Regions from separate parts of the Homo sapiens genome. Here regions 1, 2, 3, 4 and 5 are each reported to be linked to region 6. The links are microRNA targets in miRTarBase. Many come from high-throughput screens and were not tested one by one. Region 6 holds a microRNA gene; each other region holds the end of a gene's coding sequence.
Evidence for each region. Region 6 holds the annotated microRNA hsa-miR-6817-3p (UCUCUCUGACUCCAUGGCA, at 1,434-1,452, opposite strand). A microRNA usually pairs through its seed, bases 2 to 8, with sites in the 3' UTR of a target mRNA and lowers its output. Matches are read on the target gene's strand: a 7mer-m8 pairs with bases 2 to 8, a 7mer-A1 pairs with bases 2 to 7 and ends in A, and an 8mer does both.

Region 1 (4,087 bases), not on the chromosome of region 6:
TAATCTCTATTTTCCTATTAGATTGCAATTAATGTCCTAATAAGCTCAACTCTTCGTAACATTTATAATTGTACCAATTCATTGTATAACTTGACATTTCGTGTCTTTCTCCCAGCAGAACACAAACCTTATTAAATTAGGTGCTGTGTTTGCTTTTTCGCCATTGCATTTTTTAGGTTTTAGACCAATGCCTTATGCCTAGGAGATGCTCTGTTAAGAATAGAAAAAGCTGGCCAGGCGCGGTGGCTCACGCCTGTAATTCCAACACTTTGGGAGGCCGAGGCGGGCAGATCACGAGGTCAGGAAATCGAGATCATCCTTGCTAACACGGTGAAACCCCGTCTCTACTAAAAAAAAAAAAAAAAAAAAAAAAAAAAAAAAAATTAGCCGGGTGTGGTGGTGGGCACCTGTAGTCCCAGCTACTCCGGGGGCTGAGGCAGGAGAATGGCGTGAACCTGGGAGGCGGAGCTTGCAGTGAGCCGAGATCGCGCCACTGCACTCCAGCCTGGGCAACAGAGCGAGACTCCGTCTCCAAAAAAAAAGTTGTATTCTCAATCACCATTTTGGAGAGTCACATACTATTTACAGATAAACGAAGCAACTATTTAACTTCATTTGTCCCATTATTTTCCACACTTGCTCAACTATAGGTATAAGTCTTTCTACTACACAAGTTATTGGCATTTTGTTGGATACCTGTGCTCCAAGAAACACTGTGTGATAGATGTCGTGTGATTGAGTTGCCTGAACTGCTTCCCCAATCCTAAGAAGTACACCTTTGTAACCATGTTTTCATGGCCCTGTTCTTTCCTAACCACCTGAGAGTTGTGCATTTGTGAGGTATTGCTCCCTCAGAGGGTCGAGGACACCATTCTAAGAAGTCATTATGGGCATTGTGCGAGTAGAGAAAAGTAAGCTGGTCTGTAGAGGGAGAATAAAGCAGTCATGGGAAGAGAAGCATTAGGCAGGGCTCCCACACTCAAATGAGTCAGGCAGGATGACAGAAGTAAGATAACTGAATTCAAATTCAAATTCCAGATTCTTTCAACTAGGGGCTCTCAAAAGTGTGATGCTCCAGCATCACCTGGGAACTTGTTAGAAATGCACCTTCCCAAGATCCACCCCAAGACATGTTAGAAACTCTGGGATGGGGCTCAGCAATCAGCATTTTTACAAGCCCTTTTGGGTAATTCTGATGCACGCTTTAGACTGCCTATCGAACTGTAGACATCTGACGAACAAATCCAAACCACAGTCTGACAATGGGTCACCTCTGTTGAAAGTGAAACAGAACACAGCAGTACTGATTTTTAATGACTTTCCAGACCCTAGTTCTAGTTCCCCATGATTCCTGGTAACCCAAGTCCTGGAGCTGATCTGGCAGTTTCAAAACATTTCTTTTCCTTAAGCTGGTTTTGTGGGCTTTTGTTGCTTGAATCCAAACAAAAATAAAACTGTACCAGTAAAATGAAGCAAACAAAATTTGCCAAAAAGGAGCCCCAGTTCTGCCCCAGTTTTGCCAAAAAGGAGCTGTGAGGCCGTAGATAAGTTCCTTCTCTCTAAGCTACAATTCTATCCCTTACAAAATGATGCAGTTGAACTGGATATCTCAGGGGCCTTCACCCTCTACTATGCTGGCTTAGACACTGGCTCCTCTGGATAACCTCTTGGCGCTACAGATTCCTTATGAAGGTTCTCCTAAGTTACTTTAGTTCTACCCATTGACTCCAGGCAGTTAAAGTAACAAAAACAGAAAATAAAAAGCACCCAATTCTTTCTAAGCTCTTGGGAGCTGAAAAAAATAAAAATAGAAAGCACTCAAGTCTCCATGTCTCTCTTTCCCTGTCAGTAAAAAGTGCAGTTTTATTAGAGGGATGCTTTAAATAATAAGGCTTATCTGACACTCCAATTCTTTTTCATGTTAAAATTAAACCTTAGCATATTATAATTATACTCACTTCAATTAAGGCTGCTATCTATATTCCTAAAATGCATACAGTAATAGGATACAATTATGCTTGCCAAAAAATTCTATTTTTTGCAGTTTGTTTCTTCAGAATAATGTAACTCATCCAAATAATCAACATCAAATAAAATGGCAAAGTATTTTAAAGATTCTACACAAGGGAAAAACCCTAAAATCGTAAAATAAATTGTAAGAATATCCTCTATTGAGCCCATAAACCCTGCATTATTTAATTTCTTAGTTGACAAAGAATAAAAACTAGTATTGTTTTGGCCCTTAAATTCCCACCCAAATCGATTGTTCTGTGATGCTGAAACAAAATAGTTACCAAATGCTTTGATAGACAACTCATTACAATGAGAACTGAAGGCTCCCAAAATAAGACAAAGATTTTCCTGTATCTCCCAGATGCCAGGGAAAGTAAAGGAAATATTTCAGCTTTCCATCCCAAGAATGAACTCTATATATGCCCTTAAAAAAAAAAAATGCCATAAAAATGATCAAGCTCAAGGTACAGTTTTTTAAAAGCAGAAAATGTTCCCAAGGCAGGGTGAAGAAAAAAAAATTATTGAGAGAAAATGAAAAGAAACAAGGAGGAAGAAATCTTTCAACAGAGTAGAAACTGTTAGTCTCTCTCTCTCTGTCTCTCTGTGTCCCTGAAAGGTTTTGATCCAACCCTATTTGTTATCCTAGAAAAGCTCTCTGAAGAAAGGTCTCAGTGTAAGAACTGCTTGAAAGAAGCCAACCCCTTGGAAATAGGAATGGCTTGGCCATTTATTAATGTCAAATATGCTGCCTGCATGAATTAGTCAGCTTGTCTTTTGGAAGTCATACAGAAAAGTTCTTGTGCACCTGCCTGTTAGTGTCTAACACTTCTGGTTTTAATGACAGCAGTAACAACTATCAGAAAATAAAATTTTAAAAATTTAAAAGCTGAATATTACTATATTCTACTTTTGGAATAGCTGATTCATCAATTTTTAAAGGCTTCTTACTGAAATATAATTAGTGACTACAGCATAAAGCTTGCTCAGATTTAAAAAGACAAAACAGAGTCATTTTCCTAAACTGGCAGAATTCAAACAAATTAAAACTGACCTTAGAAACAAAGAGAAATGGAGCAGAAAAAGGCCAGATTTCTTACTGGCAGTACCACAGTGGCCAACATCCCAGAACTAAGAAAAGCTGCCAAGTGGAAGAGAAAAAATTAAAGGACTTTCCAAAAACAGCTAAGCCCAGTGCACACAGCATTTCCATCAGCCGGAGTTGAAGTGAGCTTCAGAAGCAACACACAGGTATAAGGTCCAGCTGTATTATTTATTTACAGCACAGTTCAAAGTCATTAAATCCGGTACAAAAGAAATGGCTCTCACTTCCTGGATTGGCACCAGACATCCTACCAGCTGCAATTACATCATTTTTTATCTATCTTCTGCTTTTACTTTGTGTAGGGTAGGGATGGGGACTTACAAATGGGCCAAAGACACTTCAACCTCAAAACCAAAGAGAAATCTCTGCTTGCAGAGATACAAAGAAAGTAACTCTCCCTCTTATGAAAAGCAACCAGGAACTCTACTCCAGTTATGAGGGCCACTGATGGTGTGGGAGAGCTATCAAGAAGATTCTTCCTAGACGTGGTGCAAAGACAGTGAGAACCCAGGAAATCACATTCATGGGACACTTGCTCTTACCGTCATCACCCTCTATTCTATCTCAACTTTGGCCCCATCAAATCTAATGATAAACAAAAGAAGGTAATTACATGTAGAAAATCAAAGTGAATGGGAATGTGGTGGTGTGAACATAAAAGAAGAAATTGAAAACAATCAAAAGTTTCTCAGTGCTGCTTTCCCGCACTGTCATAGAAATCTCTGATCCAATTCTTCATATGTCTAACTTCCAAGGAGCGGGCTAACAGCACAGACATAGGATCCAAGGCATTCTTGGTGCGGAGATCTAAGTGGTGGGCCCCCTCTGAGATGGTGACTGCAACCAGAGTGTCTGTGATATCCTTAGTTACTCCACCTCCTGACCAGGGGTCTAGTTCACCATTGCTGCAAGTGAAAAAAAGAAGAAAAAATAAAGTTGTTAGTTTTTCATGTTAACACTCAGATAAGCTAG
Region 2 (4,087 bases), not on the chromosome of region 6:
CTACCAGCTAGAGGATCCGTCCAGGGGGACTTCCTGGAGCAGGAGGCAAACCACCTTGGTGTGGGAGGGTGTGGAAGGTGTGCATGGGCAGAGATGGTGGGCAGGGGAGCATCTAGGTACAGGCAGCGGTAAGAGTGGAACTGGCTGGCCAGGCGCGGTGGCTCACGCCTGCAATCCCAGCACTTTGGGAGGCCAAGGTGGGCAGATCACCTGAGGTCAGGAGTTTGAGGTCAGCCTGGCCAACATGGCAAAACCCCATCTCTATTAAAAATACAAAAATTAGCCAAGGGTTGTGGTGGGCACCTGTAATCTCAGCTACTCAGGAGGCTGAGGCAGGAGAATCACTTGAACCCTGGAGGCGAAGGTTGCAGTGAGCCGAAATTGCGTCACTGCACTCCAGCCTGGTGACAGAGCAAGACTCCATCTCAAAAAATAAAATAAAAATAAATAAAATAAAATAAAATAAAAAATAAAAGAGTGGAGCTGGCTGAGGCTGAGGCAGCTTTGGGTGGGAGGGGCTGAGCTTTGCGGGGACCTTAGTTTGACAGGGACAGGGATGGACGAATTACGGTGGCGGAGCTGCGGGAGGCGGTACCGGCTCTGCTCGGGGAGCCGCTGGCGGGTCCTGAGCTGGACGAGATGCTCCGAGAAGTGGACCTCAATGGGGATGGCACCGTAGACTTTGACGGTGAGTCTCCTTCCCGGAAAACCCTCCCGTGCTTCCAGGGCCTAGGCTGAGCCCAGCACCTCCTGGGATCCCTGACGTGGACTGACCCAAGCCCTGCCCTTCTCTCCCGCAGAGTTTGTGATGATGCTCTCCCGCCACTGAGGCTCCAGGAGGGAATATCTGTTGCCCCTGCGGCCCCAGACACCAGCCAGACCCAGGCTGCAGGCCTCCCCCAGGAGCCTCCAGGATGGAGATGGAGACCCAGCAGCCCCCAGACTACTTCTATCCCTGAAAACACCTGGCCTCAATGTTGGCTTGTTATGTTACCTGCCCACCCTCATCCTTACCTCCTCCTACTCAAGCTGCCTGGAGAAGACCTGCTCTCAGCTGCCCACCGTTCCTCAGTGTGAGCAAGATTTGGGTCTCTCCAGACCTCTGGGAGGTAGGGAGTTCCCTGGCACTGGCAGCATTCAGTGGGGACCCCCCAGTGGCATGATGAATGGAGAGGATGGCTGGACCCCTTCCACTACTTATGTTTATAATTTTTTTTTTTTTTAATGAACTTGAGCCGGGTGCAGTGGCTCACACCTGTAAGCCCAGCTGTCAGGGGGCAGAAGCGGGAGGATAGCTTGAGCCCAGGAGTGCAAGACCTGCCTGGGCAATATACTGAGACCCCATTCTCCACAAAAAGGAAAAATAAAAGACAAAAAAACAAACAAAAAACCAAAAAACCCAAGTGTAAAAAAAGTGAGCTTGAAAGAAAGAAAGGGATGGCTCCATGTATCAAAGACAAAGAAATCAAAGCTGGGGTTGTAAGAGGGAGCTGACGCTGTGGGGGTTTCAGATCTGGATGGAGGCTTGGCCGCCTGGACTCCTACAACCATGAGTGACAGAAGAACCATATGAGTCTGGGGAGCAAGAAACAAACCCCCCGGATATATTCCAGGGTCTCCAAAGGCTAAGATATTAATCTGTCTGCACTGACCAGTCATAGAAAGTGGCAAGGATACAGATGTTCAGGGCCCAGAGTGGAAACAGCTGCCCTAAAGAGCCTGGAACTCCAGGGCCTGCCCTTCAAGCAGGCGTGTAGTCTCTCTCCAGGGTGTGAAAAACTGGAAAAAAACCCTGCCGCTCCCAAAGGGGAACTTGTGATAAAAATTACAGATTATTGGGCTGGGAGTGGTGGCTCACGCCTGTAATCCCAGCACTTTGGGAGGCTGAGGCGGGTGAATTACCTGAGGTCAGGAGTTTGAGGCCAGCCTGACCAACATGGTGAAACCCCATCTCTACTAAAAATACAAAAATTAACTGGGCGAGGTAGCATGCACCTGTAATCTCAGCTACTCGGAGGTTGAGGCAGGAGAATCGCTTGAGCCCGGGAGGTGGAGCTGCAGTGAGCTGAGATCACACCATTGCACCCCAGCCTGAGCAACAGATCGAGACTCCGTCTCAAAAACAAAACAAAAAAACCATACTGATTATAAAAGTAAAGAAACCACCATGAAGGAGACGAGACAGAGACAAAAACAAGAGGACTGGCATCTCAGTGTACATAATACAGCCGCCTAAGAGACCACAAGATACATGCAAATAAAAGACGGCTAAAAGGGGAAGAGAGATCAACATGCAGTAACAGGATAGTATGAAGAGAGAACCGGAAGATTTAAAAAGTAACCCAACAGGCCAGGCGCATGGCTCATGCCTGGAATCCCAGCACTTTGGGAGGCCAAGGTGGGTGGGTTGCTTGAGCTCAGGAATTCGAGACCAGCCTGGGCAACATGGTGAAACCCTGTCTCTACTAAAAATACAAAAATTAGCCAGGCGTGGTGGTGCTTGCATCTGTGGTCCCAGGTATTCTACAGGCTGAGGTGGGAGGATCACTTGAGCCCAGGAGGCAGAGGTTGCAGTGAGTCGAGATCGCACCACTGCACTCCAGCGTGGGTAACAGAGTGAGAATCCGTCAAAAAGAAAAAAACAAACCATGGCTTCTGTTAAAAAAATAAAGTATATTTTATATATACACACACACACACACACACACACACAGCCATTGGAATGAAAAAATAATGGATAAGCTAAACAGCAGATTAAACACAATTTAAAGATTAATGAACTGGAAGCTATATCTAAGAAATCACTTATAATGTAACACTGAGAGACAAAAGGATGGAAAATATTACAGGGTAGTTAAAAGTCACTGGAAGGCTGGGTGTGGTGGCTCACGCCTGTAATCCCAGCACTTTGGGAGGCTGAGACGGGCGGGTCACAGGGTCAGGAGATCGAGACCATCCTGGCTAACACAGTGAAACCCCATCTCTACTAAAAATACAAAAAAAAATTAGCTGGGCGTGGTGGCGGGCGCCTGTAGTCCCAGCTACTAGGGAGGCTGAGGCAAGAGAATGGCGTGAACCCAGGAGGCGGAGCTTGCAGTGAGCCGAGATTGCACCACTGCACTCCAGCCTGGGCTACAGAGCGAGACTCCGTCTCGGAAAAAAAAAAAAAAAAAGGTCACTGGAAGACTGGGTGTGGTGGCTTATGCCTGTAATCCCAGCATTTTGGGAGGCTAAGGCAGGAGGATCACTTGAGGCCAGGAGTTTGAGACCAGCCTAACAGCAAGACCCTGCCTCTTAAAAAAAATAATAAAAAAATAAGCTGGGTGTAGTGGCTCATGCTTGTAGTTCCAGCTATTCAGGAGGCTGAGGTGAGAGGATCATTTGAGCCCAGGAGTTGGAGGCTGCAGTGATCGTGCCACTGCACTCCAGCCTTGGTGACAGAGCAAGAGACCCTGTCTCAAAGAAAAAGACAGATAAGTCCTTGGGAGTCTCAGACGGAGGACATACATAGAGAATGAACAAGAAGCAATAACCAAAGAGATAATGGCTGAAAATTTTCCATAAAGACTTCCACAGACTTCAACTCCCCAGATTGAAGGAACAAACTGAAGTCAGAGTAGGGTAAATAAAAATAAATATATATCTGGATATATCCCATTGAAACCACAGAATATAAAAAGCAAATCTTATAAATAACTGGAGAGAAAAGTCAGATTCACGGTGTTCTGTCAAAGTGTTCATGTAGACTAAGGGTGGGGAAACTTTCTGTAAAGGGCTGGAGAATAATTATTTTCAGCTTTGAGGCTTTGGTCTCTGTTGCAGCTGCTCACGCAACTCTGCTGTTGAAGTTTGTAGTGCAAAGTCAAGTCAACAAATGAGTGTGGCTATATCAGAAATTTTAATAAATAACAGTAAAACTTCATTTATTGACATGGAAATTTGAATTTTATATAATTTTATGTCATAAAATCTTATTATTCTTTGACTTTTCTCCAACCATTACAAAATATAAAAACCACTCTGTGGACTATACCTTGCTGATTCCTAACGCAGACTTCTAATGATGGGAATCACCACTTCTGAAATT
Region 3 (4,087 bases), not on the chromosome of region 6:
CCCACGATGTGCAAAGTGCAGTCCTGGGTCCAGCATGGGAATAAGAGATGTGGAGTAAGCATGTGAGCGCTAAATCTGCATCATTCAGGCAATATTCATTGAGCACCTACTGTGTGCCTAGCCCCTGCTACGCATCAAGGATATGACAGTGACCAAGGCAAGTGTGGTGCCTGCCCCATGGAGTGTAGGCAGCCCATGTTCTAGAATGTGCTGAGGATTCACCACAGCTCCATTCACCCAGCACCTGCAGCAAAGCTGTTCGCCTGTTGGTGTGTGTTCAGGGAACATACACCACCATGACACTCGGCTAGGCTGAGGGTTCTGCAACAGCTCTTTGCAGTTGTATCCTTCCTCAGTCCAGGCCTTGTGTCTTTAGGATGAATCAGAGGCCTTGCTCATTCGTCTGCTCAGGGCCCACTGCCTGAAAGGCTCAACACCCTCCCAACTGTCCCCAGGGCTGGGAAGCCTGAGACCTCCAGATGTTGCAGGGCCTGAGAGGGCAGGGGGCCTGACTGATCCCTAGGAGAAGCTGGCTCTGTCTGTGGAGGAGCAGCAGAGGGACTCTCTTCACTCTTTTCCTCACCTGTCTTCTGATATGGGGAGGAGAGGGAGAGGAGGAGAAAGAATGGAAGGAGAAGGAGGAAAAGGGAAGTTCCTAGGTAAGATATTCCATCTCTGGTCCCTGTGGGTCCATGGACCCCAGCACTGAAGCCTCTGGTTACCAACCCAGCACTGAAGCCTCTGGTTACCAACCAGAGGTGACACCTATTTAGCACCACACAGCCCAGCCCTGACAAATCACAATGGACTCTGACTGAGGGCTGCAGCAGGGCTGGGGGGCCCCATGCATGTGCCAGGAATGATCACTTTAGTTGCTGGATTGTGGAGTGAATCCAGGGTCCCCAGGGAGGAGCAGGGGCAGAAGGGGTAGGATACTCAGAGAATCTGAGCCATGGTTGTTTACCAACTTTCTTAGTTGTAAGAATTTCTTAGTATTTTCAATACTTATTTTAAATATTTGAATAGCTAGTATGGCTGCATCAGTACAGTCCAGCCCTGCTACCAACAGTGCCCATACAATCATATCAAATCCAATTTAAAACCATATATTTTATTGATGTTCTTCAAGGACAATACAGGGCCATGTGTACAAATGCTACTCAAGTCTCACATCTGGCAACCTCCCCACCGTCATCCCCCATTGACCAGTCTGCAAGCAGCCAACATCCTGTAGGTCTCCCTGTTGCCCTTCCCCAGGATGTCAGGCCTCACCGTGCTGAGCCTTCAGGAGGCTGGAAATAGCAGGGCTGGCTTCTAAGCTTGAGCTCTGGAGCCAGGAAAGAGTCAAGGCCAAAATTGCCCAGATCTTCCCCTCCTCCCTCTCCCTCCCATTGCTTAAGTATGGCCAGAATTGTGGGTGAAAATGCCCCCAGCGACTCCTCCATTGAGGCAGCCTAGGCTTCCCCTCTTCAGCCATCTCTATCACATTCTTTATTTCCAAATGACCTGCCCCACCAACCACCAAGATGGCAGAGTGACCATTTTGCAGGGAGTGTGAATCAGTGCACAGACGGCAGTGACAAGGTGCCCCTGATGGCATGAATCTTGTCATCCTGTTCATCACTGCATTGCCAGTGCCTGGAAGAGGCTGGGAACGTAGTTGGCACTCAATAAATATACGTAGGATGGATGAGTGAAGGAATGAGTATGGGAGGGAGAAATGTGAGCAGGTGGAGCCAATACTACATTAGCTCTCTAGGGGGTGTGAAGGCAGAACCACAGTAAAGTCCTCCCAATCTCTGCTCAAGAACCCAGGCTGTTGCGCAGCTATCAGCGGGTCACTGCAGTTGGCGGTTGGACATTGCAGGGCATGGATTCAGCACTGCTGCCTGCATGGATGTCATATTGGCTTTGGGACCCAGTCAGGAGGGGGCACTTGTGTTGTCCCTACTCCCTTATATGCCCCAGAGGTCTGGTCCTCTAGGTTTCAGAAAACACACAGCAGTGCCTCCACCGGAGTCAGTCAGATGCGCAGGGATGGTCTGGGAATTGCACCCTTATATTCTGGTCATCTCCACTCCTCAGCCTTAGCTCACCACTGCCCCCCATGCCCTGCCACTGACAATGACACTGCTCCATCTCCCTGTCCTCAAATGTCAGTCCCCTCAACCACCCAGGTAGCCCTGTCTCTGCAGAGACTCTCTCTTCAGTGGCTGGGTTGGGTCCTGATTTTCAGACCCCTCCCATGCCCACACTCCCCTCTAGGAAAGCAAATATCTCACAGGCATCTCTGCAGATCTTGCCTCTGGGTCCAGCAATCACAACCAGGACATCAGAACCTTGGGGTTGGAAGGAATGTGTAAGCTCACCTAGAATGACCCTGTACAGAAATCCCTTCCACAGCATGCCTGGCAGACGACTGCCTAGACTCTGCTGGAATACCTCCAGTGATGGGGCACTCACTACCTTCACAGGCAGCCATTCAAACATTGAAGAGTTTCAGCTGCTGGAATGCCCTTTGTATAGGGCATAAATGAACCCAATTGTCCCTCTCACTTCTCCCTTTCCCCTAGGCATTATTCCTATATGTTTCTAACAACACTTCTCACCACCACCCATCTCTCTCTCTCTCTCTCTCACACACACACACACACACACACACACACTTCCATATGGTTATACAGTCGAATATCCCCTTCATTTATCAGTAATTATCTTTCCCTGTCCCTTCTTCCTTGCCTTCCCATCATCTGGCAAAGACCTGGGGGCTGGAGATCAAGTAGAAAGGCTGGAAGAGTTCCAGGGACAGGAAGCATCCAGCCAGGTCCTGGACTGGGCTGGGCCGGCCAGATGGGGCAGGGTGGACAGGGAATAACATTTGGAAAAAGCAGGCCATTGATTGCTGTCTCCCAGAAAAAGGGTCTTGAACCTGGTGGGGGGTGGTGAGGGAGCAGCAAGCTACTAAGTTCTTTTTCCTACAGAGGGGATGCGGACACACACCCACTCTTTCCCAACTCCCCTAGCAGTTGGCAGAGCTGACTTGGCTGCCTCTTACACGTGGTGATTTTAAACATTTGCCAGCCTCTAGGTCCCAGGGAGTCTCATACCAGCAGCAAGAATCCACTCCCCTCTCCCAACATGGGGGCTGAGAGGAAGGGCTCTAGCAGACAGCAGTGATGAATGAGACACGGTGGAGAATGGATGAGCCAGGAAGAGGGGGAAAGCAGGGATCCCAAGGGGACGGAAAGAAAGCAGAGGCAGCCTAACAGCTAGCAGCCACCTGGCTGGCTCGTGAGGAGCCTAGAAATGCCTGGGGGGACATTTTTCCTCCTTGTCATGATCCACCAGCTCACGCTGTTCTCATGGGTGGAAGGTGAGGGGAAGATGCTAGGACCTTACCAGCACAAGGTTGTAGTGAGTCATGGGTGGAGACAAGGCTGCCATGGTTTTATGCTCAGGAGGAGTCAAGACAGAGACAGAGAGATAAATGACGGGAGTGTCTACTACTTATCCTGCTGCTTGGAGCTCTCACTTCCGACATTGAACATGGGGACCAGCAGGCCCAGCAGCCACCTCTTTCCGAAGACCTCTTGTAAGTTCTTGCGCCAGGGCCGGGCCCTCACTGCCACCCCCTTCCGCACCTGGTGGCGGGTCTGCCCGCGGAGGATCAACAGCAGCTGGTGGCAGCAGAAGCCGGCGCAGGCCAGGCCGATGGCGAACCAGAGGTAGAGCATGAGGATGACGAACATTTCAGAACCCAGGACAGCTCCTGCAGGGCACGGGGAGGGGAAACACCAGAGCCGCTTTACACCCAGGCCACCGGCATAACTGCGATCTAGGCAGGCTTTCCACCGGGAGGGAGGGAGATTAATGAGATTGACGCTACATTTTGTAGCAACCTCAGCGCTGCAGCTGCAGTGAGGGAGAGGAAGGAAGAACCAGCTGCCCTAACTTTTTCTTGGCGCGGATGGCACCTGAGGCAAGAGGGGAAGACTGGAGACATGGCAGAGAAGAGAGCTAAGTTTGATGAGCTTAGCAAGGACAGCCCTCAGCTCCTGGGGCAGCACCTGGCCGCTGATAACATTTC
Region 4 (4,087 bases), not on the chromosome of region 6:
TTGCCACCACCTTCAAATTTGGAACAGAGTGCAAGGCAGAATACGTGTATACTTCAGAGAGCCAACAGTGTCAGCAGGATGCTACTGATTCACAGCAGATTCCCTGGCTCCACACCTGAGGAAAAGGCCCTTAGTAAACACACCTTACATATATAATAAGTGGGGAACATTGGGGTAGTGCTGGGGAAAGTGGCAGAATACAGGGACTTCAAAAAGTTTGCCTTGGCTGGGTGCGGTAGCTCATGCCTGTAATCCCAGCACTTTGAGAGATGGACGCGGGTGGACTGCTTGAGCCCAGGAGTTCAAGACCAGCGTGGGCAACATGGAGAAACCCGTCTCTAGTGAAAATACAAAAAACTAGCTGGGTGTGGTGGCACATGCCTGTAATCCCAGCTACTTGGGAAGCTGAAGTGGGAGAATCACCTGAGCCCAGGAGGTCGAGGCTGCAGTGAGCTGAGATTGCACCACTGCACTCCATTCTGGGCAACAGAGTGAGACCCTGTCTCAAAAAAAAAAAAAGAAAAAGAAAAAAAAAGTTTGCCTTGCTTTTTGTCTAGCCAGTGCTGCAAGCTGACCATCATTTGGTTGTTTCAGACGAGTTTCACTGGCATTTGCATGGCCTCTGCTGGTTATTGTGTGTCTCATCTCCAGGAGCTTAAACCCTTCTATAGAAGGCAATTCCTCAGTGACCCCTAAACCAGCCAGTAAGTTTGGTTTGCCTTCAATAGTTGACCTCAACTATGCATCAATAGGTACATGCAAACATCCAGCACTGCCATCATCTGTCTATGTAACCCTGGACCAAAAGCTACAAGAGAAAGCTTGAGTCTCTCTTCCCCATGTAAGAAAACCAACTGCCACCCCTCCAAAAATAATTAATGGAATACAAAGTTGATTTGAGTATTTTATTTATAAATGTACATTTACTATAAAAGCTGTTGCATTTTAGACAACTTGTTGTTTTTATTTTTTACTGTTTCTCAGAGGCATTTTAGAATAAATACTTTAAATGAAAGTTAGTATAACCGATATAGAACACTGGCCCACCCAGAGCAGTAACATCTTTTGGACGGACTCACATATGAGGTGGATCATTTCAGTTTGTTAAATCTTACACTGTGTATAGATAACTATAATATGTATTGCATTAATCACACTACATAGAAAGGAAATGTCATGGAAGTTCGCTAGTGAAAAACAAAAAGTTACCCATTATTTTTATTAAAGAGTAGGGACTAGCTTTTGGAGTATGAGAAAAAAAATCAGATATACTTCCTCAGGAACAATAAATCACTCACTTGCCTCACCTGTTTTTTAAACAAACACATTTACATTATAGCTCAATGGAGCAGAGCATTTTTTTTTTCCTGGGATCTCAAAGATTATTTGAAAAGAAATAGATCATACTCATTATGCTGCATTGGAAAAAACAAGATCTAGTCTGCCTAAGCTGCCATGTAACAGACTCCAAATGAAATATAAATCAAATATAAATAGAAACAGTTGGCAATTAGAATTTAGAAAATGTTGGAGATTATTCTGTGCTGGTGACTAGTGTTCATTATGGGAAAGCACATTTTGCAGTTGGAGAATGGGGCTTTATTTTTCTTGACTCGATTCTAGCTTCAATACATGTACAATGAGCCTCACTAAGAAATATGTATAAATGGGTTTGTGAAACCAGAAGGGAATGTGCAATATTCATGTAATCCTTACATAACGGATGGAGTTGCACATGTAAAAAGTATTCTATAAAAATCGGTTATGAATGACCATATTGTACATGTTTGTGCATTACTAGTGGTACTCTGCTAATATCATGCAAAGTGTAAACATCCACATTATCAAAATATTTAATAAAACATGCAGGTGGATAATCAAAATATTGGACTTGATCTGTACATTTTCAAAACAATTTTTCTTTTTAATTTTTTCTTTTTTTCTTTTTTTATTTTTATTTTTTCCTGTAAAACAGCAAACACCTCCATGAGAAGTCTTGGAAACTTGGAAGTGACTTCATCTCTCTTCAATGTACTGCATCCATAATTTATCGCCATGTGCAACAGCTTTGCGTTTTCTAAGGCACAATTTTTAATGAAATGATGTGTAGATTTCAATCTAATAACAGCTCATCCAAATGACAAATATGGTCGAAATCCCTCCAGTGGCTGAGGAAATTTCTGCACCTATATGGAACCCACATGCAAAGAACCCATCTAGCATGTAATAAATAATCGCTAGCCATACTCAATAAGACACGGAAAAATTATTGCTTACATAACAGAAAAACATCTACTTGACCCCCTTTTATGACTACATCAATCTATTAGGAGTGTATCCATAGTCTACATTCACAAAATGTCATCTTGACTTATTTGCCATTGATTTAAGGCAGAATAAATAGTCCCCCTTTCCCCAGTCTTAACAACAAAAAACAAAAAACCAGCCTGGAGATCTACATTGTGATGCTTTTTAATAACTTGACTCCTTTCTTGGCCAGCTGAAACTCGTCGCACAGGGCAGAAAATAAACCAGCTCTCCACAAGAGTTCCTCTCTAAACTTCTCCATGGGCAAGGTCCGGAGTTCTTGATAGCAAAAAAAGTGATGGAGAATGGAGGAGAGTAGGTATTCATTGAAGTGGGCAGGGCATAATCTGTGCTGTAGGTTCTTGCTGATCACAGACCAGGGGCTGACCACATCATATACCACATAGATTCTATTAAGATGGACTTAACGCTTTTCTTTGGACACCTGTGCTTCAGGCCCTTAAGGAGAACTTGCCAGCAAGGGTGAGCAGTGCTCACACCTAATGATGAACTTATCTCGGTGCCTCATCTTCCATATACCTCATGTTAAGTCTCTTATTGAAGACTCCTAATCTAGTGCCTCGAGAGAAGCAGGCAACAGAGGCCTGATGTCTGACATTGACTCTTTGGAAGATTAAACTTCCTCACAGATTTTGATAATGACTTTGGAAATGATGACTGAAATATTTCCCTCTGCTTTCTTCCTACCTTTGGGCAACGTCCCGGAGTGTAAATCTAGCTGATATTGCAAGGTTTTGCTTTATTTGATGAACCAGCCTATATTAATGACATAACTTCCAAGGTACACAGAATCTAATACTAACGGTGCAATAATTTATTGGTATAATTTCTACCTCCAAAGGTAAGTAACACAAATGTTTCAGGATTACAGTATATATTATCAAACTAGTGTCTTTGCATTAAAAACAAATTATAGCTCAGAGATAGAGCTTGCTGTGATGTTTAGTTTCTGAAATGCATTAAATTTATCCTTCAGTCTTAGAAGACCGTGTGTCTCAAATTGGCATGTCTTGCACTTTCTGCAGCTCAATTCTGTAAACATAAAGTGTTTAATTCCTAGACATTCTAAAACAAAACAGGTTTATTGCATCATTTAGCTAATTCCCAAAGAAGAGAATAACACATTTTAAACCATAAGCCTGTTTGACCATGCTAAAACCTTTTTTGAGCTATTCAGGATCATTACAACCCCATATTCTTTTGTGTATACTGTGCAAATGCAAAAAAAAAAAAAAAACCAAAACAATAAACAGGAAAAACATAAACACTGTGCTACGAAAGAACAGATACCACCTTTCAGAAGAGCCTTTCAGAAATTAGGTAAATGCTGAGAAGCCCCTGAGCTTGGGATTTTGTTAAGCAGTTGCCAGGGGACACTCTCAGTAAAGAAATGGTGAGTGATCCGGAAGCTTGAAAGCCGTGTCACAATGTTGTAGGCTGCCCGGCACCTGTGATTAAAACAAACAACAACAAACAAGAGTGGTAGGCAACATTTCTCGCTTCAGACATTTTAAAACCTCCCTAATGAGCAACTGCCTTTACCAAAGTCTCCTCTTCCTGGGGACCAGAAACTTCTCCCATCCTGCTACTTGAAGTGTGGCCCCAGGACAAGTAGTACTGGCATCACCTGGAGTCTGTTTGAAATCCGGGCTCTTAAGCCGCATTCCAGACCCACTTAACGTGGTGCCCAGGTGATTCACATGCACTGTGAAGTTTGATCAAATGCTCTGGATTGCCCCTAAACCAAAGCATCTCCATC
Region 5 (4,087 bases), not on the chromosome of region 6:
GCCAGGTGCATCCTGGGCATGCTGAAGGTTGAGGGGCATTGATCTGGCCTGCCATCCTCATTGCCTCTTCTCTGCTTCCTCAACAGGTTCTGGGCCTGGAACTTCTGCCTCCTTCCTCCGTGATCTGCCAGGCTCGTGGGCACTTTCCACAGCCCAGGAGAGCTTCTGAAAGGACAGTATAGCTGCCCTTGCTCCCTACCCACAGCACCTGAGTTAAAAAGTGATTTTTATGTTATTGGTCTAAGGGACTTCCATCTTGGTCTGAAGTCCTGAGCTCAGACGCAGGTACTGCCAGCCATACCTTCCTGGTAGCATCTGCTGGACCTAAGTAAGGCATGTCTGTCTAAGGCCAAGTCTGCCCGGCTTAAGGATGCTGGTTCTGACTCTACCCCACTGCTTCCTTCTGCTCCAGGCCTCAATTTTCCCTTCTTGTAAAATGGAATCTATATCTATAAAGGTTTCTTCAAATCCACTCTTGAGTCCACTTACTTGTCTAGTCCTGCAGGCTCAGGCATCCAGGCTGGTCTCCATCTGTGCCTTGGAGAGGGCTCAAGAGAGCAAACCCCAGACCTGGAGGGTGGGAAGGCTTTTAAATTACTTCCTCCTCTGTGGGTTCTGCTCGGAGCCAATGTTCCTGGCCCAGATGTCTTGCGCTTATCGTCATCTGCCCCATGAACTGTAGATTAGTCCATTGCAGGTGGATGCACATATGCACAATCTTCTCCACGAACCTGCTGTAAGCTATTCTGGCTTTCAGTCTCAGCTTCCCTTAGGCATGTGTTTAAGGACTGCAAACTCATTTTGATCTTTGCCTGGGCCAAATATAACGAGGAAGGTAAATCTGTAAAGCATTAGCAAAGCATTGCCAACTCAGAAACAGAAATGATTTTTAGAAGGTCTGCCAGTTTAGAAGCAGCCACTCGTTGGCTTCTCTCCACTGCTCACCAAACCGTTCTGGCCCTATATCTAGCCTTCTCCACCCAGCGTATCCATAGCTTTCCTCGGCTAAAACCACCAACCTCCATTAATCTGCTGAACAGAAAATGCCTAGTCTATTACACGGTGAGCTGCTCAGACAGGAACAATGTTGTCTTCTTCCTGAGTAAACCGCAGTGCAGAGAAGGCCATCTCACACACAGCAGGCATCACACTTGTGGTAAGGGTGGAGGGTGGTGTGGGAGGGTCCTTGGCACGCCCACCTGGGCCCCTCAGCCCAATCCTTTACATCCGTGAAGAGCAACAGGAAAAGACAAGCACCTTTTTTTTTTTCTAAGAAGTTGCTGTATTTAATGCTTCCCCTCCCACCATCCCACACCCTCTCCTACCCAAGACATTTCTCTAGGGAGTAGGGGCCTTGCCCGGCCCTTCCTCTTAAGGCAGATGGTGTGGAGGTAACATCAAACGCAAGGCACTGGCCCAGGGCGCAGGGGTGTGGGCAGGGCAGGAGGCTGGGCTGGCTCCTAGTCATTGGAAGTGAAGCAGGTGGGCAGTTTGGGCTGGTTCCAGCCTTCCAGTGCAATGCCCGAGGACGAGAGTGGTCCCAGAAAGAAACTGGCAGCCCCACTGGCCAACTGCAGCCCTAGCCTATGCCCCACCATCCTTCTCCAGGGGCCAGTCGGCCTCAGCAGGGACCAGAAAAAGCCACAGCCCAGGGAGCAGGTATGGCCTTCCTAAGCCACAATCTCAAAAGTCTCTGTCCTTCATGATTCCTTAAAGGGAGGCAGGGATTCTCCCCGACCCCCCAGAAGGTTCTCCACGGGCTCCATTCTCCCATGTGCCAAACTCGTGCTCTCGGGGAATGCAGAGCCCACTAGGCAGACCCTGCAGCTCCAGTGCCGTGGTTTGGACCGTCACAGCCTGGAGCGCGGGCTCAGTGGCCTGGTCTTCTGGGCCCCGCCGCACCTCCCCCAGCCCTGTGCTCACCTCCCTAAACAGACTCTGGAGTTCAAGATCCAGTGTCCAATGCACCATGGGTGAATTCACAGCAGTGGTGGAGGCAGCAGCAGCAACAGAAAAACCCCCAGCCACAAAAGCACCGGGGTTATTAGTGCAAGAGAAGTACAAGGTCTCCAGGTGACAGAAAGGGTGGCATCGACTAAAAAGGCTAAGGGCTATTTTCCCTGAAACTGCCCCCCTCTTCAGTTCCTCCTGCCCCCACTCCTCTCCCTGCCTCCAGGGGATATCTCAGGGCAATGTCCTCACCTCCCCAAACCTCTCATCCCGCCCCCTTCTTATCCTGCTCCCTGTCCAGGGTTTTGCCCCCGTACACCCTTTCCTCTTCTTCCACTCAAGGCCGGGTGGCCAGGGCTCTCCCTGCAGAAGGGCAGGTCTGCAGTGGAGCTGGACTGTGAGGCTCACAGCTTCCACTTCCCTTTTCGTCCCTTTCTGTCCAGCCCCCACCCGCTTCTTGCCTAAGGAAATTGACAGATATGTCCACATCCTCTTTACCTCTTCTCCATGTCCTCTCGGGAGGCCTTACCCACAGGCACGCCGGTAAGGGAAAGGGCTTCTCTCCCCTGCCTTCATCACCCTGCCTGTTCTGCAGGCCTCAATGTCCAGTGCCAGGGAGTGGCAAGCCCCCTGCCCGCCAGCTCCCCACCTCCCAATGCCCAAGCACCAGAAACAGCCCGTTCTGTGCTTCTGGTCTGACGTGAGCCATCCGGAGGAAGTTAATGCCCTAATCAGTGGCCAGCTGTTTGGTGGCTACTGGGAGATGTGTGTCTCTGGAAGGCACGAGCCTGGGGTGGAGCAGAGACCTGCCCCACGTGGGACCAGTCCCGCGGCCAGGGACAACGCCCAAGGGACATAGGAGTGGGCGGGAGGCCTGCACGTGGGGACAGTCCCTCAGTGCACAACCTCACCCCCGCTCTGGACAGCAGTTTCGGTTTTCTGTTTTTAAAATCCCCGCCCCCCAATAAAATATGTCCACTAGAAGAGGGTCTGGTGGTCAGCGCTTGGCGTGAGGAGCGCTTGGGGGATGTGGGCGTGCACCTTCATGGATGAGGATGGTGTCGCTCAGTCAGATCTCTCCTTCCTGACCCGTCCTTCTCAGGAGCTCTTCCCGTTCTCGACTGAGCAAGTGGTCCCTCCTGGCCTCTCTCTCAAAGTCCTCCCTTCTGAAGGCCCAGGAGGCAGAGACAGGAGCCCCGGAACCTGCCTCTGTGAGGGGACAGCTCCAGGTGGAGTGGGCCGTCAGCTTCGAGGCCTCTTGGGGTCCAGCCGTCACCCCACTCCCCATCCCTGAACAGTAGCAGGGCCCTGGGGAGCCACTGCTAGTCCAGAGCGGGGAGTGCTGGGCCCCGCGGACACCCTCCGGCTACAGCGTCTTCATCTGGCGACGGCTCCACATGCCTCGCTTGGAATGGAAATGATGGAAGAAATTCCTGAGGGAGAGACGCTCCACGTCCAGGCCCGCTTGGAGTATCCTGGAGGAGGAGAAACACAGATGAGCCAACAGAAGCACAGAAGGCAGCTGGGGGGCCCCTCCCCATCGACCACAGACCCTCTGTTCGCTCCCCACGGGGCAGGGAAGGCAGGTGCAGTGGACGGCTGTGGGCTTTGAAGCCAGGCAGCCTGGGTTTGGATCCCAGCTGCATGACTGGGTATGTCACGCCTTCTTTCAGAGCCTGTCTGCTCATCTCTAGGAGGACGATTATCACATACGTGTAATGAGAGGATAATGTGTGATATAGAATTCTATCTATCTAATATTAGAGTAGACATACTATATACACATCAGAGGTGGGGAAGACGAGAAGGATGGATGCTGAGGGCTCAGCACGGCTCCTGGCACACTCTGAGTGCCCCATAACTGGCGCCCAGCCTCCAGGGCACACGTCATAGACGGAGGAAGGCAGGGCTGCTGCACTGAGACACCTGGCGCCTAGGCCCTCCCCAGGCCTTTTGTGCATGTGCAGCCTGCAGGGTGTCCCTCTCACAGGGAGGCTGCACTTCTGGCAGGGCTGAGAGTGGCCGAACTGGATGCCTGAGCCTCCGAGGAGGCAGGAGGTTCAGGGCTGTACAGGAGCCGTGCATGGCAGCAAAAGCCCAGCACAGAGATCAAGGTGGAGGTGACTGCTGGACCCGG
Region 6 (4,087 bases):
CCCAATGCACCCACTACGTGTCTATGACCACTGCTGTTGGATCACAGCCGTTTGTTAAGTTTCTACTGGGCCATTTTCATGTAACAGACACTCTGCAACACTTTGGGGAATGTTTGATTCTGAAATGTCATTTTTTCCTCCTCAAGTTTCTCTTTTATAAATGGTGGCTACGATCTACCTACCCACCCACATATGAACACCCACACATACACACACACGCACACCCACACAAGCGTGCACACATACAGGCACACACGCACACTTGCACACACACACGCGCGCGCACACGTGCACACCCACACATGTACACACACATGCACACCCACACATGTGTGCACACACGTGCACACTTGCACACACACACGTGCACACACATGCACACCCACACATGTACACACACACATGCACAGGCTAACTGTGCCTCTAATAGGCACCTGAGATACTTTGATTTTTCTTCATTTCTACATCTCTTCCCATCCTCCTGTCCCTATGACATTTTCCTTAGTTATCTCATCTCATCCTTTACACATAAAACCCTTATCCCTCAGACATAAAATCCTCTTATGCCATTTAGCAGATGAGGAAAGTGCGGCACAGAGAGGTCAAATGACGTGCTCAAGGCCACACAGCTGGGAGCAGCACAGCCAACTTGGGAACCCAGGTCTGTGGGGTGCAAAGTCCAGTGTTCTCCAACCTTCCAGTAGGTCCTGGGAGGAGCTAGACTGGGCTTGGAGGGTTTGAGAGTGTAACTGAGCAGTGATGGGCCCTGTCCCCTTCCTGAGAGTTGACACTCTCACACACTAGTAAGAATCAGGATCTCAGAAGCACTGAAAACTCACACTGGCACGAGTCTTGAAGAAGAGCTAAACCACCTTCTCCTCCAGCCCCAAACTCATAATTTCTTGTAGTATTTCTGATGGCTATTGGTTATTGAGCAATGACGGGAGTTGCCCAACCCTTGGGCGCGGGGGGCGGGCACCAACCACCTAAAATAGAATGTGAATAGTGCCCTCTGGAGCATTTCATAGTCTTGTGATTGGAGCCTTCTGGAGTTGCAGTGTGACAACCCTCAAGCTAATAAGCACATTGGAACCTCAGGACAGTAGATACCAATATGCCCATTTTACAGATGAAGAAACTGAGGCTCAGGGAAGTAAAATGACTTTTGCAAGGTCACCCAGTGAGGAGGTTCCTCACCAATCAGAAGGGGCACAATGCTAGAGGGGCGGGCTCCTTCCTGGTCCCAGGACCTCCTGCTCCAAGGTGGCAGAGAGAGAAAGTAGGATGATGGCAGGGGGCTCACCACTTTGATGGGCCTCAGGCTGCTGAGTCTGTCCTCTGGCTGCTGGTCCACCAGTCCCAGTGGGCGTACTCGCCCTTCTCAAACACAAACTGCTCGCCCTTGCAGTTGGCCTGTTCATAGCTCACCCAGCTGCCATGGAGTCAGAGAGAAAGGGGGCAGGTCAGTTCCACTCCAAGCTTCCTATGGCAGAATCCTGGCTACTGATGTTGACCCCTAGGGTTCACTCTTGCCCAGCCCGGCAAGATGTAATAGCCCCACCCAAACCTTAGCACAGCAAATCCAAGTGCAAAATCCCCTCAGTTATCTAGAACTCAGTGCTATGCTGCCTTTACCCACCTGGAACACAGTTAAGAAATAAGAAGGCAGTCTAAATAACGGCCCAGCAACAAATACCAATATATAGACGCCATGCACTAAAGCCAATAGTATGCTGGTAAGTTAATAGCCAACTCTCAAAAAACAAAACGAAAATTAACACTCTTGATTTGCAGCGTTTGCCAATTTCCATGGTGTAAATGCTCCCACTGTGGCAGATTTCAAGCTATCAATACGACACGGCTGCAAGTGAAGTTAGGAAGAGAGATGCACAGTCAGCCTTCACCACTGAGAACTGACTCTAGAACATCTCTGGGCCCAAAGCCCCTCTCTTTGGATCTGTTTCTTCTCTTGTTCCTGTTGTTAGACTCTGCCCAAACTCTGTTTTTGTAGATCCACATTAGAAGAAAAATAGTACATTAAAGAGGAAGGGATGGCTTTCAGGTCGGGCATGGCTAATAGAAGAAAGCAGAAAATAGAAGAAAGAAGGCACAAATCTCAAAATGATTAGCATTCTGGGACCAACCAGTGCAGAGGCGAACATTTCAGCAATGTGCAATAATGGCTTTTCAGAGGAATGATCTAAGTCATTAACAAAAGAGGAGATCATGTTTATTATCCTCTTTTGGAAAAGTAGTCTTGATCCAGCAATTCTACTTCAGGCAATGGTTCCTTACAAAACAGTTGTCAAGGGGCTGGGCACTGTGGCTTATGCCTATAATCCCAGCACTCTGGGAAGCTGAGGTGGGCAGATCACCTGAGATCAGGAGTTCGAGACCAGTGAAACTCTATCTCTACTAAAAATACAAAAAATTGGTCAGGCATGGTGGCTCATGCCTTTAATCCCAGCACTTTGAGAGGCCGAGGCGGGCAAATCACGAGGTCAGGACTTCAAGACCAGCCTGGCCAACATGGTGAAACCCCGTCTCTACTAAAATACACAAAAATTAGCTAGGCATAGTGGCAGGCACCTGTAATCCCAGCTACTCAGGAGGCTGAGGCAGAAGAATCACTTGAACCTGGGAGGCGGAGGTTGCAGTGAGCCAAGATCACGCCACTGCACTCCAGTCTGGGCAACAGAGTGAGACACTGTCTCAAAAAATAAAAAATAAAAATAAAGAAAAAGAAGACGTTCAAGTGACCAACTGACATGAAAAAATGCACTACCTCACTAATCATCAGTGAAATGCAACTCACAAACACAATGAGATACCATCTCACGCTGGTCAGAATGGCCATTTTTCCAAAAGCAAAACAACATGCTGGCGAGGCAGGAAAGGAAAGGGAACGCTCCTACCTTGGGGAACGTGAAAACAGGTTCACACTGTGGAAAGCAGTGTAGAGATTCTCAAAGAACTTAAAACAGAACTACCATCAGACCCAGCAATTCCACTACTTAGTATCTACCCAAAAGACAATAAATCCTTCTATCAAAAAGACACATGCTCTCGTGCATTCATGGTCGTGCCATTCACAAGAACAAAGATGTGGAAGCATCCTAGATGACCAGCAACAGTGGATTTGATTTTTTAATGTGGCGCATACACACCAAAAAATACTACGCAGCCATAAGTAAAACACACAATCATGTCCTAAGCAGCATGGATAGACCTGGGGATTATTATGTTTAGCAAACCAAGGCAAGAACAGAAAACCAAATACTGCATGTTCTCACTTATGAGTGGGAGCTAAACAGTGAATACACTCGAACATAAAGATGGAAACAATAGACACTGGGGACTATCAGATGGAAAAAAGGAGGCAGAAAGGGAGTGTGGGCGGAAGAACCACCTGACGGGCACTTTGCTCACTGCCTGGGTGACGGGGTCAGTGGCCACAAGCCTCAGTGTCATCAAAGGTTCACATGTAACTAAGCTGCAATTTAATCAAAATAAAAGTTGATTTAAAAAAAAAAAAAAAAAAACAGGGTTGCCCTGGGCACAGTGGCTCCCGCCTGTAATCACAGCACTTTGGGAGGCTAAGGCAGGCAGATCACTTGAGCCTGGGAGTTCGAGAGAAGCCTGGGCAGCATGGCAAAACCCTACCTCTACAGAAAGTACAAAAAAATTAGTGGGGCATGGGGATGCGCACCTGTAGTCCCAGCTACTTGGGAGGTTGAGGAGGGAGGATCACTTGAGCCCGGGAGGTTCAAGGCTGCAATGAGCCAAGATCGCACTGCTGAACTCCAGCCTGGGTGACAGAGCAATAACCTGTCTCAAATAATAATAATAATAGGATTAGGATATATTATAGATAGATAGATAGATAGATAGATAGATAGATAGATAGATAGATAGATAGATAAAACAAAACCTACAGTCATCCAGGCAATCACTGACTGGCATAAATATAGAAAGACAACCGAATGGACAAAATGAGGGAGCCAAGTAATCAACCCAAAATTATATTTAGGGCACACATTTTTCAAAAGCACACCAAGGCACACCAGTTGAGAAAACTGGGTAGTCA

Region 1: miRTarBase lists PRCP as a target of hsa-miR-6817-3p. Seed matches in the 3' UTR shown: 7mer-m8 at 2,665-2,671, 8mer at 2,610-2,617, 8mer at 2,602-2,609, 7mer-A1 at 2,600-2,606, 7mer-A1 at 2,598-2,604 and 7mer-A1 at 2,596-2,602.
Region 2: the mRNA of CABP4 is a reported target of hsa-miR-6817-3p. Seed matches in the 3' UTR shown: 7mer-A1 at 2,280-2,286 and 7mer-A1 at 2,314-2,320.
Region 3: miRTarBase lists ZDHHC22 as a target of hsa-miR-6817-3p. Seed matches in the 3' UTR shown: 7mer-A1 at 2,631-2,637, 7mer-A1 at 2,629-2,635, 7mer-A1 at 2,627-2,633, 7mer-A1 at 2,625-2,631, 7mer-A1 at 2,623-2,629, 7mer-A1 at 2,621-2,627 and 2 more.
Region 4: the mRNA of LIMCH1 is a reported target of hsa-miR-6817-3p. Seed matches in the 3' UTR shown: 7mer-A1 at 2,020-2,026.
Region 5: miRTarBase lists B4GALNT3 as a target of hsa-miR-6817-3p. Seed matches in the 3' UTR shown: 7mer-A1 at 3,096-3,102.

Annotation. Positions count from the first base shown.
Region 1 is chr11:82,821,103-82,825,189 of GRCh38, forward strand. It overlaps PRCP (prolylcarboxypeptidase), which reads right to left. Exons shown (of 9, transcript NM_005040.4): 9 at 1,834-4,020. The coding sequence ends at 3,804. Among named protein-coding and RNA genes, the nearest start is that of LINC02734, 42 kb to the left of the region's middle.
Region 2 is chr11:67,457,831-67,461,917 of GRCh38, forward strand. CABP4 (calcium binding protein 4) reads left to right here. Exons shown (of 6, transcript NM_145200.5): 5 at 541-688; 6 at 801-3,922. The coding sequence ends at 829. It overlaps TMEM134 (transmembrane protein 134), which reads right to left. Exons shown (of 7, transcript NM_025124.4): 7 at 3,880-4,087. Among named protein-coding and RNA genes, the nearest start is that of CABP4, 4.5 kb to the left of the region's middle. RefSeq lists enhancers at 2,092-2,141, 2,352-2,401.
Region 3 is chr14:77,130,180-77,134,266 of GRCh38, forward strand. ZDHHC22 (zDHHC palmitoyltransferase 22) reads right to left here. Exons shown (of 3, transcript NM_174976.2): 3 at 1,091-3,769. The coding sequence ends at 3,504. Among named protein-coding and RNA genes, the nearest start is that of ZDHHC22, 9.6 kb to the right of the region's middle. RefSeq lists an enhancer at 3,609-4,087.
Region 4 is chr4:41,696,849-41,700,935 of GRCh38, reverse strand. LIMCH1 (LIM and calponin homology domains 1) reads right to left here. Exons shown (of 32, transcript NM_001330672.2): 32 at 892-3,776. The coding sequence ends at 3,751. Among named protein-coding and RNA genes, the nearest start is that of LIMCH1-AS1, 6.1 kb to the right of the region's middle.
Region 5 is chr12:560,681-564,767 of GRCh38, reverse strand. It overlaps B4GALNT3 (beta-1,4-N-acetyl-galactosaminyltransferase 3), which reads right to left. Exons shown (of 20, transcript NM_173593.4): 20 at 1,259-3,425. The coding sequence ends at 3,317. It overlaps NINJ2 (ninjurin 2), which reads left to right. Exons shown (of 4, transcript NM_016533.6): 4 at 87-472. Among named protein-coding and RNA genes, the nearest start is that of NINJ2-AS1, 68 kb to the left of the region's middle. RefSeq lists an enhancer at 1,518-2,019.
Region 6 is chr22:25,453,057-25,457,143 of GRCh38, reverse strand. It overlaps MIR6817 (microRNA 6817), which reads right to left and starts at 1,498; the gene lies at 1,433-1,498. It also overlaps the pseudogene CRYBB2P1. RefSeq lists an enhancer at 1,328-1,431.